2 separate regions of the Homo sapiens genome follow, and region 2 is linked to region 1. Evidence: fine-mapped expression QTL. Tissue or cell type: whole blood. Region 1 holds a variant in brackets; the other region holds the start of a gene. All regions are shown on one strand. Distances are between the middles of the regions.

The links. PIP is the estimated chance that this variant, and not a neighbour inherited with it, causes the effect.
Region 2: ATP13A2 starts here. The variant in region 1 is fine-mapped to the expression of ATP13A2 in whole blood (TOPMed, PIP 0.97).

Annotation. Positions count from the first base shown.
Region 1 is chr1:16,983,157-16,991,330 of GRCh38, reverse strand. It overlaps ATP13A2 (ATPase cation transporting 13A2), which reads left to right. Exons shown (of 29, transcript NM_022089.4): 21 at 1,044-1,204; 22 at 1,328-1,444; 23 at 1,561-1,640; 24 at 2,857-3,009; 25 at 3,097-3,193; 26 at 4,062-4,285; 27 at 4,375-4,526; 28 at 4,699-4,868; 29 at 4,973-5,373. The coding sequence ends at 5,110. Among named protein-coding and RNA genes, the nearest start is that of MFAP2, 6.6 kb to the right of the region's middle. The variant C/G (reference allele first, on the strand shown) is at 4,435.
Region 2 is chr1:17,006,919-17,015,092 of GRCh38, reverse strand. ATP13A2 (ATPase cation transporting 13A2) reads left to right here and starts at 3,165. Exons shown (of 29, transcript NM_022089.4): 1 at 3,165-3,364. The coding sequence starts at 3,355. RefSeq lists a silencer at 3,001-3,530 and enhancers at 4,021-4,070, 4,834-4,913.

The sequences.
Region 1 (8,174 bases):
GAAGGATGTCTTGAACCCTGGAGTTCAAGACCAACCTGGGCAACATGGCAAAACTCCGTCTCTACAAAGAATACGAAAATGGCCGGGCACAGTGTCTCACGCCTGTAATCCCAGCACTTTGGGAGGCCGACGCGGGCGGATCACTTGAGGTCAGGAGTTCGAGACCAACCTGGCCAACATAGTGAAACCCCGTCTCTACTAAAAATACAAAAAATTAGCCAGGTATGGTGGTGGATGCCTGTAATCCCAGCTACTCGGGAGGCTGAGGCAGGAGAATCACTTCAACCCGGGAGGTGGAGGTTGCAGTGAGCTGAGATCACGCCATTTCACTCCAGCCTGGGCAACAGAGAGAGACCCAGTCTCAAAAAAAAAAAGATTCTAGCTAGGGTGAGACAGCAGGAGCTAAGAGGTCTGTGTCCTTGTCCTCCCCGCCCCTGCACACACACATATGTGCACACACATTCATGGGCACTTGGCAGCAGAGTCACACAGCAGTAAGGAGTATATGTAGCCTGGGCACATGGCTCGTGCCTGTAATCCCAGCACTCCGGGAGGCCGAGGCAGGGGGATCACCTGAGGCCAGGAGTTCAAGACCAGACTGGCCAACATGGTGAAACCCCATCTCTACTAAAAATGCAAAAAAAATTAGCCTGGTGTGGTCGCACCCTCCTGTAATCCCAGCTACTCAAGAGGCTGAGGCAGGAGAATTGCTTGAGCCCAGGAGGAAGGAGGTTGCAGTGAGCCGAGATCAAGCCACTGCACTCCAGCCTGGGCCACAGAGAGAGACTCTTGTCTTAAAAAAAGAAAAAAAAGGAGTATATGTGGAGCTCCAGCCCACGGCTCCAGGTTCTCCTAAGACCCTTCAATGCCTGGATCTACAGATGAGAAAACTGAGGCAAAGGGATGTTGGTAACCTGCCTCAGCTCACTTGGCTGGTGGTGGCAGACGGATTTCATCCAGCCTGTTTTCCCATCTGTAAGGATCAGGATGAGGATGGCCTCCCCGGATAGCCTCAGACCCTCACCTTGCCCCATAACCCCCAGGGGACAACCTGCAGACAGCGGTGACTGTGGCCCGGGGCTGTGGCATGGTGGCCCCCCAGGAGCATCTGATCATCGTCCACGCCACCCACCCTGAGCGGGGTCAGCCTGCCTCTCTCGAGTTCCTGCCGATGGAGTCCCCCACAGCCGTGAATGGCGTTAAGGTGAGGCTAACCCAGAGTTCCAGCTGTACCTCACCCAGTGACCCCACCCCTGTGTCACCTGACCCAGGCCCCAACTCTCCAGGGTGGGCAGGGGGAGCTAAGCTGAGCTTCCTGGGCCCCCAGGATCCTGACCAGGCTGCAAGCTACACCGTGGAGCCAGACCCCCGATCCAGGCACCTGGCCCTCAGCGGGCCCACCTTTGGTATCATTGTGAAGCACTTCCCCAAGCTGCTGCCCAAGGTAGGGCCGCCCCCAGCTCCCTGGCCGCCCTGCGCCTCCCCTGCTCTGTCTCCTTCCTCACGGCTCGCTCTCCCTGGTGGGTGCCTCAGCCCTCCCCCATCTCCCTGTGCTCCCAGGTCCTGGTCCAGGGCACTGTCTTTGCCCGCATGGCCCCTGAGCAGAAGACAGAGCTGGTGTGCGAGCTACAGAAGCTTCAGTGAGTGCTCGGCAGAGGGTGTGGGCAAGGGCCTGCGGAGACTGAGCTTGTCCGTTCGTCTGTTCATCTGTCCTTCCCCAGGGCCCTGTCTCCCTCCTCAGGCACCAGAGAGCTGTCACCCCTCCTCACCAAAAGCAGGCAGGCTCTCCCAGGTCTTTCATGCTAAAAATAATAATTGTAGGCTGGGTGCGGTGGCTCATTCCTGTAATCCCACCTCTTTGAGTGGCCGAGGTGGGAGGATCACTTGAGCCCAGGAGTTTGAGGCCAGCCTGGGCAACAAAGTGAGACCCCATCTCTTATTAAAAATTTAAAAATTAGCCAGGTGTGGTGACACACCGGTCATCCCAGCTACTCAAGAGGCTGAGGCAGGAGGGTTGCTTGAGCCTGGGAGGCTGCGGCTGCAGTGAGCCATGATCACACCACTGCACTTCAGCCTGGGCAACAGAGCGAGACTCCGTCTCAAAAAATAGTAATAGGCCAGGCGCGGTGGCTCATGCCAGTAATCCCAGCGCTTTGGGAGGCTGAGGCAGGCAGATCACCTGAGGTCAGGAGTTCAAGACCAGCCTGGCCAACATGGTGAAACCCTGTCTCTACTAAAAATACAAAAATTAGTTGGGCATGGTGGCGCACACCAGTAATCCCAGCTACTCAAGAGGCTGAGGGCACTTGGGCAGCAGAGGAGGTTGTAGTGAGCAGAGATCACGCCACTGCACTCTAGCCTGGGCAACAGAGGGAGACTCTGTCTCAAAAAATAATAGGCCGGGCACGGTGGCTCATGCCTGTAATCCCAGCACTTTGGGAGGCCGAGGCGGGTGGATCACCTGAGATCAGGAGTTTAAGACCAGCCTGGCCAACATGGTGAAACCCCATCTCTACTAAAAATACAAAAAATTAGCCAGGCGTGGTGGCGGGCGTCTGTAATCCCAGCTACTTGGGAGGCTGAAGCAGGAGAATCACTTGAGCCCAGGAGGCAGAGGTTGCAGTGAGCTGAGATCATGCCATTACACTCCAGCCTGGGCAACAAGAGTGAAACTCCGTCTCAAAAAATAATAATAATAATGATAATAATAATAATAATTGCATCTATTCACTGAGCGCCTCCTGTACACCAGGCACCATGTGGCATTAGGGGCCCAGCTGTCATCATATTCTGCCAGCCCACCCATGGGGTGGTGGGGTAATTCCCCAGGCCACACCTGTCCACACCTCTCTTCAGGTACTGCGTGGGCATGTGCGGAGACGGCGCCAATGACTGTGGGGCCCTGAAGGCGGCTGATGTCGGCATCTCGCTGTCCCAGGCAGAAGCCTCAGTGGTCTCACCCTTCACCTCGAGCATGGCCAGTATTGAGTGCGTGCCCATGGTCATCAGGTAAGGCAGGCAGGGACCGGTGGGTGAGGGCTCAGCAGGGCTGGTCAGCCAACCTGGGTCCCCTAATGTCCGTGCCCTGCCACCCAGGGAGGGGCGCTGTTCCCTTGACACTTCGTTCAGCGTCTTCAAGTACATGGCTCTGTACAGCCTGACCCAGTTCATCTCCGTCCTGATCCTCTACACGGTGAGTATCTGCAGAGCTCCGTACCCAGAGCCGTCCCAGGACTAGGGAGGGGACACAGCCCTGTGCCTTGGAGCTGGCAGGTCCCAGAATAGATGACGTGGGCCCAGATCCTGACCCTGCCACTCTCCGGCTGTGTGGTTGGAGAGGTGGCAAGGCTTGGGGGAGATGAGAAAAACACCAGGCACGGAGCCTGGTACCCACTAGGTCCTCACAAATGGCAGCAGCTGTCATGGGCTAACATCTTGACCGCAACTCTGGGAGCTCCCCAATCTGCAGGGAAGACTGAACGGAGGCAGGGCCAAAACCCTCGCCCCCGCCCCATCCCCACAGGTCTGCCCATTTCCCCAGATGCACTTGCTTTGCCCCATACCTTGGCTGTACCTCCCACACCCTACTTGGAGGAGCTCTCCCCTCCCCTGCTCTGGGCATGGCCTGCTCACCCCCAGCGAATGAGGTGACACTGCAGGGCGGCGCACATCTTATACTTGGGTCTGTCCCTGTGTCTGCCTGAAAGCGAGGAGCTCCCTGAGGGCAGGAACTGTGCATGCCCTGGTAGCTATAGGGACTCCGCAAGGCAGAGCCGAAGCCTCCCCTTCGGGCCGGGAGTTTGTTACAGGGAGGGAAACCTCCCCTCAGATTTAGGCCCCCAAGGTCAGCACAGGTGCCCTTTCCATCAGACCAGGGGTTTGTCTCACATCAAGAGCGGCACCTCCTCCGCTGGGCTGGCAGGAGAGTACGGCCCCCATTAGACTGGGGGATGCCTTACCCATCAGATTCCTTCGGGGCAGGGGTGGGGCCTCTGCTATCAGACTAGGGGCTGCCAGGGCCAGGTCTTAGTTTCCCCTCTGTCCTCCCTTCCCTGTGGCAGATCAACACCAACCTGGGTGACCTGCAGTTCCTGGCCATCGACCTGGTCATCACCACCACAGTGGCAGTGCTCATGAGCCGCACGGGGCCAGCGCTGGTCCTGGGACGGGTGCGGCCACCGGGGGCGCTGCTCAGCGTGCCCGTGCTCAGCAGCCTGCTGCTGCAGATGGTCCTGGTGACCGGCGTGCAGCTAGGGGGCTACTTCCTGACCCTGGCCCAGCCATGGTGAGTAGGGAGCTGACTGACCACCCCCATCCCGCCCCTTCCCTGTCCACCCCACGTTCGTTCCCTGACCCCCATCCCTGTACCCCCAGGTTCGTGCCTCTGAACAGGACAGTGGCCGCACCAGACAACCTGCCCAACTACGAGAACAC[C/G]GTGGTCTTCTCTCTGTCCAGCTTCCAGTACCTCATCCTGGCTGCAGCCGTGTCCAAGGGGGCGCCCTTCCGCCGGCCGCTCTACACCAATGGTGCCACTGCGGGCGCGGGCGGGAGATGCTGGCGGAGGGAGGGAGGAGCCCTGGGGTGCTGGGGAGGCAGATGGGAGAGAGGTGCCGGCCGAGTGGAAGACTGGCGTGCACACGTGTGTCTGTGGGTGCCGGGGGGGCGTGGCTCCTGCCTGAGAGACTCTCCTGCTCCCAGTGCCCTTCCTGGTGGCCCTGGCGCTCCTGAGCTCCGTCCTGGTGGGCCTTGTCCTGGTCCCCGGCCTCCTGCAGGGGCCGCTGGCGCTGAGGAACATCACTGACACCGGCTTCAAGCTGCTGCTGCTGGGTCTGGTCACCCTCAACTTCGTGGGGGCCTTCATGCTGGAGGTGGGGCCCGCCCTGGGTCTCAGCAGCGGGAGAGAAGGGAGGTGGGGGTGCATTGACCCCAGCTCAGCCCCGGCTGCCCCTGACACCCTCCCTGCCCTTTGCAGAGCGTGCTAGACCAGTGCCTCCCCGCCTGCCTGCGCCGCCTCCGGCCCAAGCGGGCCTCCAAGAAGCGCTTCAAGCAGCTGGAACGAGAGCTGGCCGAGCAGCCCTGGCCGCCGCTGCCCGCCGGCCCCCTGAGGTAGTGCAGGCCCACGGGCACCCCAGACACTGGAACTCCCTGCCTCTGAGCCACCAACTGGACCCCTCTCCAGCAACACCACCGCCACCACCTCCCACATCCCTGAGGTTGGCGACTGTCTACACTCCTCCCCCGAGACCACCCCCACCCTGGGGAAGCGTTGACTACTGTCCCCTACCTTGGACCATCCCGCGTAGGGGTGGCAGCCCCCAGCTCCCCTCAGTGCTGCTGTCAGTGTAGCAAATAAAGTCATGATATTTTCCTGGCTCTGCTGTGCCTGTCTTGTACCTGGCACCATAGACCCTCCCACCTGCCCAGGAGGAAATGCACATACCCCCGGGTGCCCAGCTGGCAGCCCCTGCACGTGTCTGCCCCTGGAACCCCCTGGGGGGCTGGTTTTTCAGGCTGGTTTTTCAGCCTGACAACCCCCTGGAACCCCCTGGTTTTTCAGACTCCATTGGCCAACTCCCCTCTCTGGGCCTGTGTTCCCTCATCTCACAGTAATAATGTTTCCTCTGTGTCCAGCATGTGCCTGGATATTCCGTTTAGCTTTTTTTTTTTTTTTTTTTTTTCTTGAGATGGAGTCTTGCTCTGTCACCCAGGCTGGAGTACAGTGGGGTGATCTCTGCTCACTGCAACCTCCGCTTCCCAGGTTCAAGCGATTCTCCTGCCTCAGCCTCCCGAGTAGCTGGGATTACAGGCATGTGCCACCACGCCCAGCTAAATTTTGTATTTTTAGTAGAGACAGGGTTTCGTCATGTTGGCCAGGCTGGTCTCGAACTCCTGACCTCAGGTGATCCGCCCACCTTGGCCTCCCAAAGTGCTGGGATTACAGGCGTGAGCCACTGCGCTTGGCCCCATTTAGCATTTTACACACATTGTCATGTCATCCTTCCAACAACTGTGGTACTATTCCCATTTTACAGATGAAGAAACCAAGGCTTAGAGGTTACACAAGTAGTCAGAGTGGGGCCGGATAGCTTTGACTCCAGCTTCGATGTTCCTAACCCTCCTACCCTCCTTTGGAGGACAAGGAGATGTAGGCTTGCCTGGGAGGCATTTGCTAGGGGGCAGCTCCCTCTCTCCCACCTTACCCCCTCCCCGTCCCACCCCAGCATCCTGGGACATGTTTGTGGGCAGTTCCTTCCTCAGATGAAATCCAGGCTCGGAGCCCACATCTCCCAGCCAGAACCACGCGCATCATCCCTCAGGGAAGGGTGGGTGCCTCTGAGCTCATCTCACCAGCGGGCCCCTGGCCAAGCCCCTCTGCTCTAGAGAGGCAGCTTGGCCGTCTGGCTCATCTGGGCAGGGGAGAACAGGAAAGACCGGCTGTTTCCTGCCTTCCAAAAGCCCTGGCCAACCTCATTCCTGGAACCCCTGGTGCTATCCCCAGGCCTGCCAGAGTAGGGGCTGAGAAAACGTTGAATCATGCTGGGGAGAAGGGATGTGGGTGTGAAGATGAAAGTCCTGCCAGGAGGCACATCACAGTGGACCTCTGCTCCTGGCACTGTGTTGCCAGCCAGCGACGGTTCAGGGTGGTAGATGCTGTTTAAGAGGAAGCCACAGAGAGGCCTGGGTTCAAATCCCTCCTCTACCCTTAGCTGATTATTCATGAATCTGTTGGACAGGTGTGTGCCAGGCACCAGGACTAACTCAACAAACTGAATAAAACGGGACAAAAACATGGTCTAACCCTGCGAGCAGTTCACCATCCAGCGTGAAAGCCTGGCAGGGAAGGAGCACATCTCCAAAGACGTAGTGGGAGCACAGCAACCACAGCCCCATCCCCTCCCCTGCCCAAAGAAACAGCCAGGGGAATGGGTAGAAGCAGCAGAGAGGACATGGGAGCCAGGACACGAATTGTCAGCTTTAGCCCCTCAGTTTCCCAGTTTTTCTTTTCTTTTCTTTTTTTTTTTTCAGACAGGGTCTTGCTCTGTTGCCCAGGCTGGAGTGCAGTGGTGCAATCGTGGCTCACTGCAGCCTCTACCTCCCCAGGCTCAGGTGATCCTCCTACCTCAACCTCCTGAGTAGCTGGGACTATAGGCCAGCACCACCACACCCAGCTAATTTTTGTATTTTTTGTAGAGATGGGGTTTTGCCATGCTGTCCAGGCTGGTCTCAAACCCCTGGGCTCAAGCGGTCCACCCGCCTTGGTCTCCTAAACTGCTGAGATTACAGGTGTGAGCCACTGCACCCAACCTCCCTCCTTTTTTCAAGGGTAGGGGACAGCATTTCTGCTGGGTGAGTTCCTCTCTTTTGCCAGTGGGATTGCTCCTGGCAGCAGTGGGGTCTAAGGGCAGGCAGAGAGGGCTGGGCTGGCCTGGCCTGAGGGCCCACCTCTCTCCAGGTGACAAAAGTCTCTGCTGCCCTGCAATAGACACTGGGGGGCGGGGCATGGGAATGAAGGAGGCACAGGGCATATTTACTCCCTCCCTAAGACTCAGAGTCTAAGGGAGGTGGGGGAATGACTGGCGATGAAGAGATCAGATGGCAAGGGTCTAAATCAGGGGCCATCCTCATCTCCTCCCAGCCCGCAGCCCCTACAACTCTCACTCCCGCCTCAGGCCTAGGCTCCTGGGCAGGGCTGAAGGCTGCCCCTCACGCAGAGGATCTGCACCCCCAGCCAGCTTCTCCGGGAAGAGTTTAGTGTACAGTTCACTCATTCATTCCACCAATGTTTGCTGAACTGCTGCTCTGAGCCGGGCTCTGAACTTAATGAGCAAAACTGAAGATGAGCAAAAACAGCCTTGGTCCTGGCCTTCACGGGGCAAGATGACAGTCTCATCGGGAAGAGGGACAGGGCTCAGATGGTCACAGACATAGGCCAACAAGACAACTGCAAGCAGTAAAGCTAGAAAGCACAAAAAAAGGAAAAAGGGAAGGCCCCTCTGAGGAAGGGAGGGTTTGATCTGTGACCCCATGGAGGAGACCTCAGCCAGTGCTCGGGAGGAAGAAACGCCTCAGTGTGGGAGGGAGAGGGGTTTGGGAGAAAACCCCCAAAGGCCAGTGGCTGGAGGAGGAAGAGGAGGCAGAGCCAGGCTGCCATAAAGGGCCGGGGCCCTGGAAGC
Region 2 (8,174 bases), 24 kb before region 1:
AAAGTAAATGTGAAAGCATCTTGCCTGCAGTAGAGTAAATGCTCCATAAACTCAAGTGAACGGATTTGTCTTGAGTACCTACTATGTGAAAGGCCCTCGAGTGAATGCTGGGAGGCTGCAAGAGTAATTCCTTCCCAACCCTGAGTTGACAGCTGGCATGTTTCTGACATGACTGGCCAGAGCTAGAGGCCTCCCTGTTGGGAGGATGGTTTTTCCGTGCAAGGCTAATATTGCTTATTTCTCATCTCTCCCGTCACACTGCTCAGGTCAGGGAGGGACTCCCATTGGTCAAATTCTCTTCAGGCCCCTTCCCTTCCTGGCACCAGGATAACTACCATACAAAGTGCTGAAACTCGGCCAGGCACAGTGGCTCACTCCTGTAATCCCACTTTGGGAGACCAAGGTGGATCTCTGAAGCACAGGAGTTCGAGACCAGCCTGGGTAACATGGCAAACCCCATCTCTACAAAAAAAAAAAACAGAAAAATTAGCTGGGTGTGGTAGTGCTCACCTGTAGTCCCAGGTACACAGAAGGCTGAGGTGGGAGGATCACTTGAGCCGAGGTGGGAGGATCACTTGAGCCCAGGAGGTCGAGGCTGCAGTGAGCTGAGATCATGCCACTGTGCTCCAACCTGGGCAGCAGAGAGAGACCCTGTCTCAAAACAAACAAACAAAAAAAACAAAAACAAAAACTGAAACCCCACTTTACTGTGTGTCTAGACAGCCATAATCCTACCAACAGGGTTTGTTACTAGGTGAAAAAAATCCTCTTTTGTTGCAAAAATCTAGTGAAACTAGAGAAGTCGAAAAGTAAAGCAATGCTCTGGAATAAACTCGCCCAAATTAGTGATTTCTCAAGCTTTTTGCCACTGGGACCAGGCCTATTACGCCCTCTCCGTGGGTTCCCAAGAGAGCCACAGCCTAGAAGGGAAGCTGTTCAGTCGGTTCTCACCCACGTGGGACTGGAAATTTCAGACACGGTTATCCGGGAAGACAGCCTGGGCCACAGACCTCCTCGATGACCACACACCGAGAGCCACTTCCCCAAAGGTAACCCCAAGCAGATGGCAAGGCCTCCCACATGCTCTGTGGTTTGGAAGGAAGCTTCCTCTGGCCTCCTCCCTCATTAAGGAGAAGGGACGAGCTGCAGGTGCGGCTCCTTCCCAGCTGGCTCAGGGAATAGAGCCCCTTTAAGGCCAGGCAGCCTTAGCAATAAAAAGAATGAAGGGGGCACCCTTGCAAGGCAGTCCCCCATGCAGTCCCCAAGCCCTCTGCTTTTATTTATTTATTTATTTATTTATTTATTTATTTATTTATTTTAGAGGGAGTCTCAGTCTTTCACCCAGACTGGAGTACCTCTGCTTTTATGAAGCCGCTAATCCAGTGCCAGGATCTAAAGCAAGCAGCTGGCTTCTACCAAGTTCCTGCCATCTCATTTCATCCTCTCCATGCCTTCCATTTTGTAGGTGAGGGGAAGGAGAGCCTTAGAGAAGGAAAGTGACATTTTAAAGCTCACACAGCTAGAAAGCAACTCATGCATCCATGTCTTTCTGATGCCAGAACCCAGCCCCTTGCCACTGTACCATACTGCCTCTTGCCAAGGCCACCTGGGCTAGCCATTTCCAAACCCAGCCTTCCTGCTGCCCTGGAGGCTGGGTTCCTGCCAGAAATTGAGCTAAGCCCTGGGGGAGGACATGGGAGTTCTGAAAAGTTAAGCAGCCTGCCTCCCCTGGAAGTGTCACCGGAAGATGAAAGAACTCTTGTCACCTGACCCAAGGAAGCCAGTCCCATGGCCCAGGTGGTCAACAGGAATGACCCGCAACTGGTTGGCTCGGGCAGCCTGCCCCAGCTGAGTAAATGGCTCCACTGGCACCCAGCTGCTCAGGCCAAAACCCTGGGGAGCATCTTGAATTCCACACATTCCTGCACCCCCACATCCTATCCACCAGCAAGTCCTGCCAACGTGTGTTCCTGTACCAAATGTTCACTGGGATCTTGCTATGAATCAGGTGCTGCTTTCCCTCCTGGGGTCTATCCCCTACCCACACCCTCACCACCATCACAGCTGTGTCTCCTTCCAGCCCCTTCCACAATAGGGATCGTTGGAGTTTTCCTTTCCTTGACTAGGGCTACTTCCCAGTAGACAGCAGTCTCCGCAGGGACAGGGGCATCTCTGTTTTGTTCACTCTCACGTTCCTGGCTCCCACAGTGGTGCTGGCACTCCATAAATTCATACTGGACAAATGACCAGTGATCCTGCCCACGTCTATCCTTGGCCCTAACGTGAACCTTCCCTTGTTTGCCCTAGGATCTCACAGATCCACTCTCCCCTTTGGAGCTCCTCTGTCCAGAGGTCCTGGAGACAGGGAACACTATGCCTGTGCCGGTCACTATGGGGTAGCAGGATAAATGCTGCACGCAGGTAAGACATCTCTGGTGCCTTTCAGGGGTCTTCATGAATCCCCCCAGTGCAGGTGTGTCTGCAGGTCACGCTGTGAGGCTTCTCTTTCTCTGGCATTTCAAGGCCTCCAGTGCATCATGGCAGACTCTCCCTGGGTCTCTGTGGGCCCACATCTGACCCTGTGAATCTCTGGGCAGGTGTGTCTTCCTTCTTTGCATTCATCAAGCAGCGCCAGGCACTGTCTCAAGTGCTTGATACGCATTTTCTTTTTTTTTTTTTTTTGAGACAGAGTTTCGCTCTTTTTGCCCATGCTGGAGTGCAATGGCATGATCCCGGCTCACAGCAACCTCCGCCTCCTGGGTTCAAGCGATTCTCCTGGCTTAGTCTCCGAGTAGCTGGGATTACAGGCATGCGCCACCACGCCCAGTTGACAAGCATTTTCTTGTGTGATCCTCGCAGCAGTTCTCTGTGAAGCAGGCATTGCTATCCTACAGGTTGGGAAAAGAGGGCCAGAGAGGATCAGTGACTTGCTCACGGTCGCGCGGCCTGGAAGACATGGAGAGCTGGACCAGCACGCACAGTCCCTAACCACTGGGACGTGCTGGCGGGGGCTACCTCCGTGAGGTGTGTGTCTCCGGTCGCCCCGCCCCCGGTGTGTGCGGAGGAGCAGGCGGGGACTACAAGTCCCGGCAGCCCCGGCGCGGGCGCTGCGAGGGCCGCAGAGGGCCGGGCGGGGCTTGCGGCGCGCACGGAGGGACTGCGGCAGTGTCGGAGCCGCGCCGAGCCTGGTGGCCCAGGTGCCCCGCCCGCGTCAGCCCTGCTCCAGCCCCGCGCTAGCCCAGCGCCCCTCGCCCCGGGCCGTCCGGACCGCGCCCCCGCCCAGGGCCTTGCGCACGCCGGGGCCCAGGCCGAGGGCCGCAGCGCCGGGGCCGGCGATGAGCGCGAGGAGCCGGCATGAGCGCAGGTGAGTGCGGAGTCCGGGTCGGCCCCGAGCCCGGCGCGGTCCCCGGCCCGCCAGTTGTCGTCACCCCTTGGAGGGAGAGGGGAGGCGACGCCCCCCACCGCGGGGTCGCGAGCCCAGGAAGCGGGACCTGGTTGGGGATCCTGGCCCGTCCCCTCCCTTTTGACGGGGACTCGGCCCCGGTTTCTTCCCAGAGACGCCGGGGCTGGGGATGGCGCCGCCGCTCGCAGCCGGTCCCTCCCCTCCCCTGCACCCCTCAGCCGCGGGATTGGAAGCCGGGCGCTTGTGCAAGAGGGTCCTGGGGCCGTGCGGGGACGGGGAGGCCACCCCACGCCCACTTAATCGGATCCCACCCCGAGTGACGGATGTCCAGGTGGGGGAGACGGCTGCATCCTCGGGCCTCTGGGCAACCCCTCTGGGCTGAATGAATGAATGAATGGCGTTGGGGGAGTCGGGACTCCATTTCCTGGGTAGATGTCCTGGGCCACAGCGCCACTCCTGACCTCCTGCCTCAGACCCCAGAGAAAACCCGTCACACCCAGGGCCAAGGGCCACACCCTCCATGCAACCCATCCCTGGCCAGATGTCCTACGCCCACTCCTCCAGGGTCTAATTTAAATCCCACCTGCCGGGAATGGGGCCAGTCCTCCTCCCCTATCCAGAAAGGTCTCATCTCAGTGTCTGTCACTCAGCCCCCAGCCCCACAGCCTAGAGTGCACCCCCCGGCGAGGGAGGGGAAGGAATGAGGAAAGACAGCCCCTAGAATCCAGATCCAAAGATGGGAAGATGGTTCACACACACTCCCGCCTCAGCCTGGCAGAAGACAGGAGCTCCCCGCCGCCGGGAACCACAGCCAGGGAGGAGGCAGCCGCCCTGGGCCGCTGCCAGGTCACCAGCAGGAAGCCAAGGCTTCCGCAGGAAATAAGAGGTCCCAAATGGCTCTAGCCCCTCTGATCCACAGTGCTGGTGACACTGCCCCGAGCTGTGACCTCAGACGAGGTTCAAGTCCAGTCTTGGCCCCTCATAGCTGTGTGACTTTGTGCTTGTCAATCTACTCCTCTGGGCCTCGTTTTAAATGGGAATCCTAATCTGTACTTTTCATGGAATGGCTGTGGGAAAGAATGTGCCCATTCAGACACACTCATTTCCAGCTTCTCCCCTTTCAAGCTCTATGACCCTGGACAAGGGATTCACATGCTGTTCCTCAGTTTCCCCAGGTGTACAATGGGGATAATAATAGTCACTACCCCAGAGGGTTGTGTGTGAAGCTTCATTGAGTTAGCACACTGAAGGGCTTCCGCAGGGCATGGTGAGCACTCCATGGGAGCTGCTGTTCATCAGAAGAGCAATGACAGGCCAGGCGTGGTGGCTCACGCCTGTAATCCCAGCACTTTGGGAGCCTGAGGCAGGCGGATTACTTGAGGTCAGGAGTTCAAGACCAGTCTGGCCAACATGGGGAAACCCCGTCTCTACTAAAAATACAAAAATTAGCTGAGTGTGGTGGCATGTGCCTGTAGTCTCAGCTACTTCAGGAACTGAGGCAGGAGAATTGCTTGAACCTGGGAGGTGGAGGGTGCAGTGAGCTGAGATCTCTCCACTGCACTCCAGCCTGGGAGACGGGCAGGGGGGAAGGGGGGAACGGGGGGGGAAGACTCCATCTCAAAAAAAAGAGCAATGCCATCATGAAGGTGCTCTCGCCCCCCCACACAGCCTGTGGGTGCCTGTTCTGGGCTGGTCTGAGCCCACAGAAGCCCTGGGGAGACTGGGCTGTGGCTGGGGATAAACAGATGTACTGCAGGAGAGAGTGCCCTGGGCTTGATCCCTGCAGGGAGGGGCTCTGGAGGTTTCCACAGCTGTGACTTCCTCCCTCAAGTTCCACTCCCCTTTTCCTCTTTGCCAAGGTTGACTGAGAGAGTGTCATTGTGAAGTGACAGTCATACGATTGCCATGAGGAAGAACTTCCCAGGGGGACCGCTGTTTACATACTGGGGACTCTGCCCTCTTTTTGAAGAACCTTTTCTTCATAAAGAGTCTTGAGGCCGGGTGTGGTGGCTCACACCTGTAATCCCAGCACTTTGGGAGGCTGAGGTAGGAGGATCAGCATGAGGCCGGGAGTTCAAGATCAGCCTGGGCAACAAAATGAGACCCTGTCCCTACTAAAAAAAAATTAGCCTGGTGCAGTGGCACCTGCCTGTAGTGCCAGCTACTTGGGAGGCAGAGGCAAGAGTACCTCCTTTAGCCTAGGAGGTCAAGGCTCCAGTGAGCTAGGATCATGCCACTGTGCTCCAGCCTGGGTGACAGAGTGAGACCCTGTCTCTTTTAAAAAAAAAAAAAAAAAAAAAAAGGAAGAGGCTCAAGCCCCTCCCCCCAACTCCCAGCACCTTTGCCTTCAAGCTCTGTTGTGTCCAAGAGACAGACATTCATTCATTCAGTCAGTCGGTCAATCAGTGTTTCCTGACCCCTGAGCACATGGCAGGTACTGTGAGCAGTAAGGGCAGTGACACCCATCTGAGCCTGATGCTGAGGGGAATGTCAGGAGTAGATGTGCTGGGCAGAGAGGACCTGGGAGTAAGGCCAGCCCTGTTCCAGCTTTGAGACAAGTCTGAGGGCAACTGCCCCAGAGGCTCAGTGCTCTCGTTTGTCAAACTGGGTAAGAGAGCCCACCTTGTGGGTTGGTGCGGGAGGAAATCAAATCAGCACCGCAGGGATGGCTCCTTTCCCATCATCCCTGAGCCCGCTGGGCTGTTGGCCTGAGGGTTTTTTTTTTTTTTTTTGAGTCTTGCTCTGTCACCCTGGCTGGAGTGCAGTGGCGTGATCTCAGCTCACTGCAAGCTCCACCTTCTGGGTTCACACCATTCTCCCGCCTCAGCCTCCCAAGTAGCTGGGACTACAGGCGCCTGCCACCACGCCCGGCTAATTTGGTTTTTATATTTTTAGTAGAGACAGGGTTTCACCGTGTTAGCCAGGATGGTCTCAGCTAGTCTCCACCTCCTGACCTCGTGATCCGCCCCCCTTGGGCTCCCAAAGGGCTGGGATTACAGGCGTGAGCCACTGCGCACGGCCGGCCTGAGGGTTTTAAGGTACAAGGAGCAACTGTTGAATGGGCCTAGGGAGCCGTGGGACAGCCAGGGCTTCAGACAGGGTGATGTGAAAGGAGAAGAGAGCCTGGGAAATGGATAAGCAGAAGCCACGCCCCCCTGACCTGGGAGCCGGGTCCTGCCCACCTGTCCACGCAACCCCCCCAGGAACTTCAAATGCTTCTACCTCCCTGTGTGCTGGATGCTTCGGGACTATCATCCTAGAGATGAGAAATGGAAGCCCAGAGAGGCAAAGGCACTTGCTGTATGAAACACAGCATCAAAAAAGAAATTCTTAGGAACAAATGATGGGCAAAAAGACAAAACCCTGTCTCTACAAAAAAAATTAGCTGGGCATGGTGGCCTGTGCCTGTAGTCCCAGCTATTTGGAGGCTGAGGTGGGAGAATTGCTTGAGCCTGGGAGGTCAAGGCTGCAGTGAGCTATGATCGCAACACTGCACTCCAGCCTGGGTGACAGAGAGAGACTGTCTCAAAAAAAGACTTATACACGAAAACTGTAAGCTGGGCATGGTGGCTCACGCCTGTAATCCCAGCACTTTGGGAAGCCGAGGCTACAAGAGTGATAAGTAAATAAATGAATGAATGAATGAATGAAAGGACATCACAACCGAGGTTACCTGGCAGGGTTGATACGTTAGCCATGTACCCTGTGCACAGTGAGCCCTCTAGGAGTGTTGAAGCCAGAGTGCTTGGGGATGGGGCTGCTCAGAGGCTGGGGGTGCTGTGCCCACAGCAGCTGCCTGGGGCACTCTGGACTCTTTGGGTAGAAATTTTAGAAGGGCTCGCCGGGCGCTGTGGCTCACGCCTGTAATCCCAGCACTTTGGGAGGCCGAGGCGGGCGGATCACGAGGTCGGGAGATCGAGACCATCCTGGCTAACACGGTGAAACCCCATCTCTACTAAAAATACAAAAAATTAGCCGGGCGTGGTGGCGGGCGCCTGTAGTCCCAGCTACTTGGGAGGCTGAGGCAGGAGAATGGTGTGAACCCGGAAGGCAGAGCTTGCAGTGAGCCGAGATCGCGCCACTGCACTCCAGCCTGGGTGACAGAGCGAGACTCGCTCTCAAAAAAAAAAAAAAAAAAAGGAAAAATTTTAGAAGGGCTCAGATTGGGGGATGAAGGAGGGAGCCCAGAAAATCAGCAGCCTACCCCGCACCCGCCCAGCTTTTCCAGCTTAGTGAGCTTTTTCAGAGGCTCTTGTGAAACCACAGATGCCTAGCACCATCCCTACCCCGGCCTGAGGAGTTGATCCAGCCAGTCTGGGGAGGGCCCTGGCATCTGCATATGTAAAAGGTGCTCCAGGTGGTCTGGGACCGTAGATGAACCCTGACAGAGGCTGTCCAAGGGTGGGGCTGGTGAGCTCTACCCGCTCTGGAGCCCCAGAACATCCACTGGCTGCCTGCCCTGCTAAGGCCACAGCTCTACAGCACAGGAGGAAGGAGTGAAAAGAATGTCTGTGGCCGGGCGCAGTGGCTCAGCCTGTCAGCCCAGCACTCAGGGAGGCAAGGCGGGTGGATCACCTGAGGTCGGCAGTTTGAGACCACCCTGACCAGCATGGTGAAACCCCGTCTCTACTGAAAATACAAAACTTAGCTGGGCGCCTGTAATCCCAGCTACTCGGGAGGCTGAGGCAGGATAATCGCTTGAACCTGGGAGGCAGAGGTTGTAGTGAGCCGAGATCATGCCATTGTATTCCAGACTGGGCGACAGAGCAAG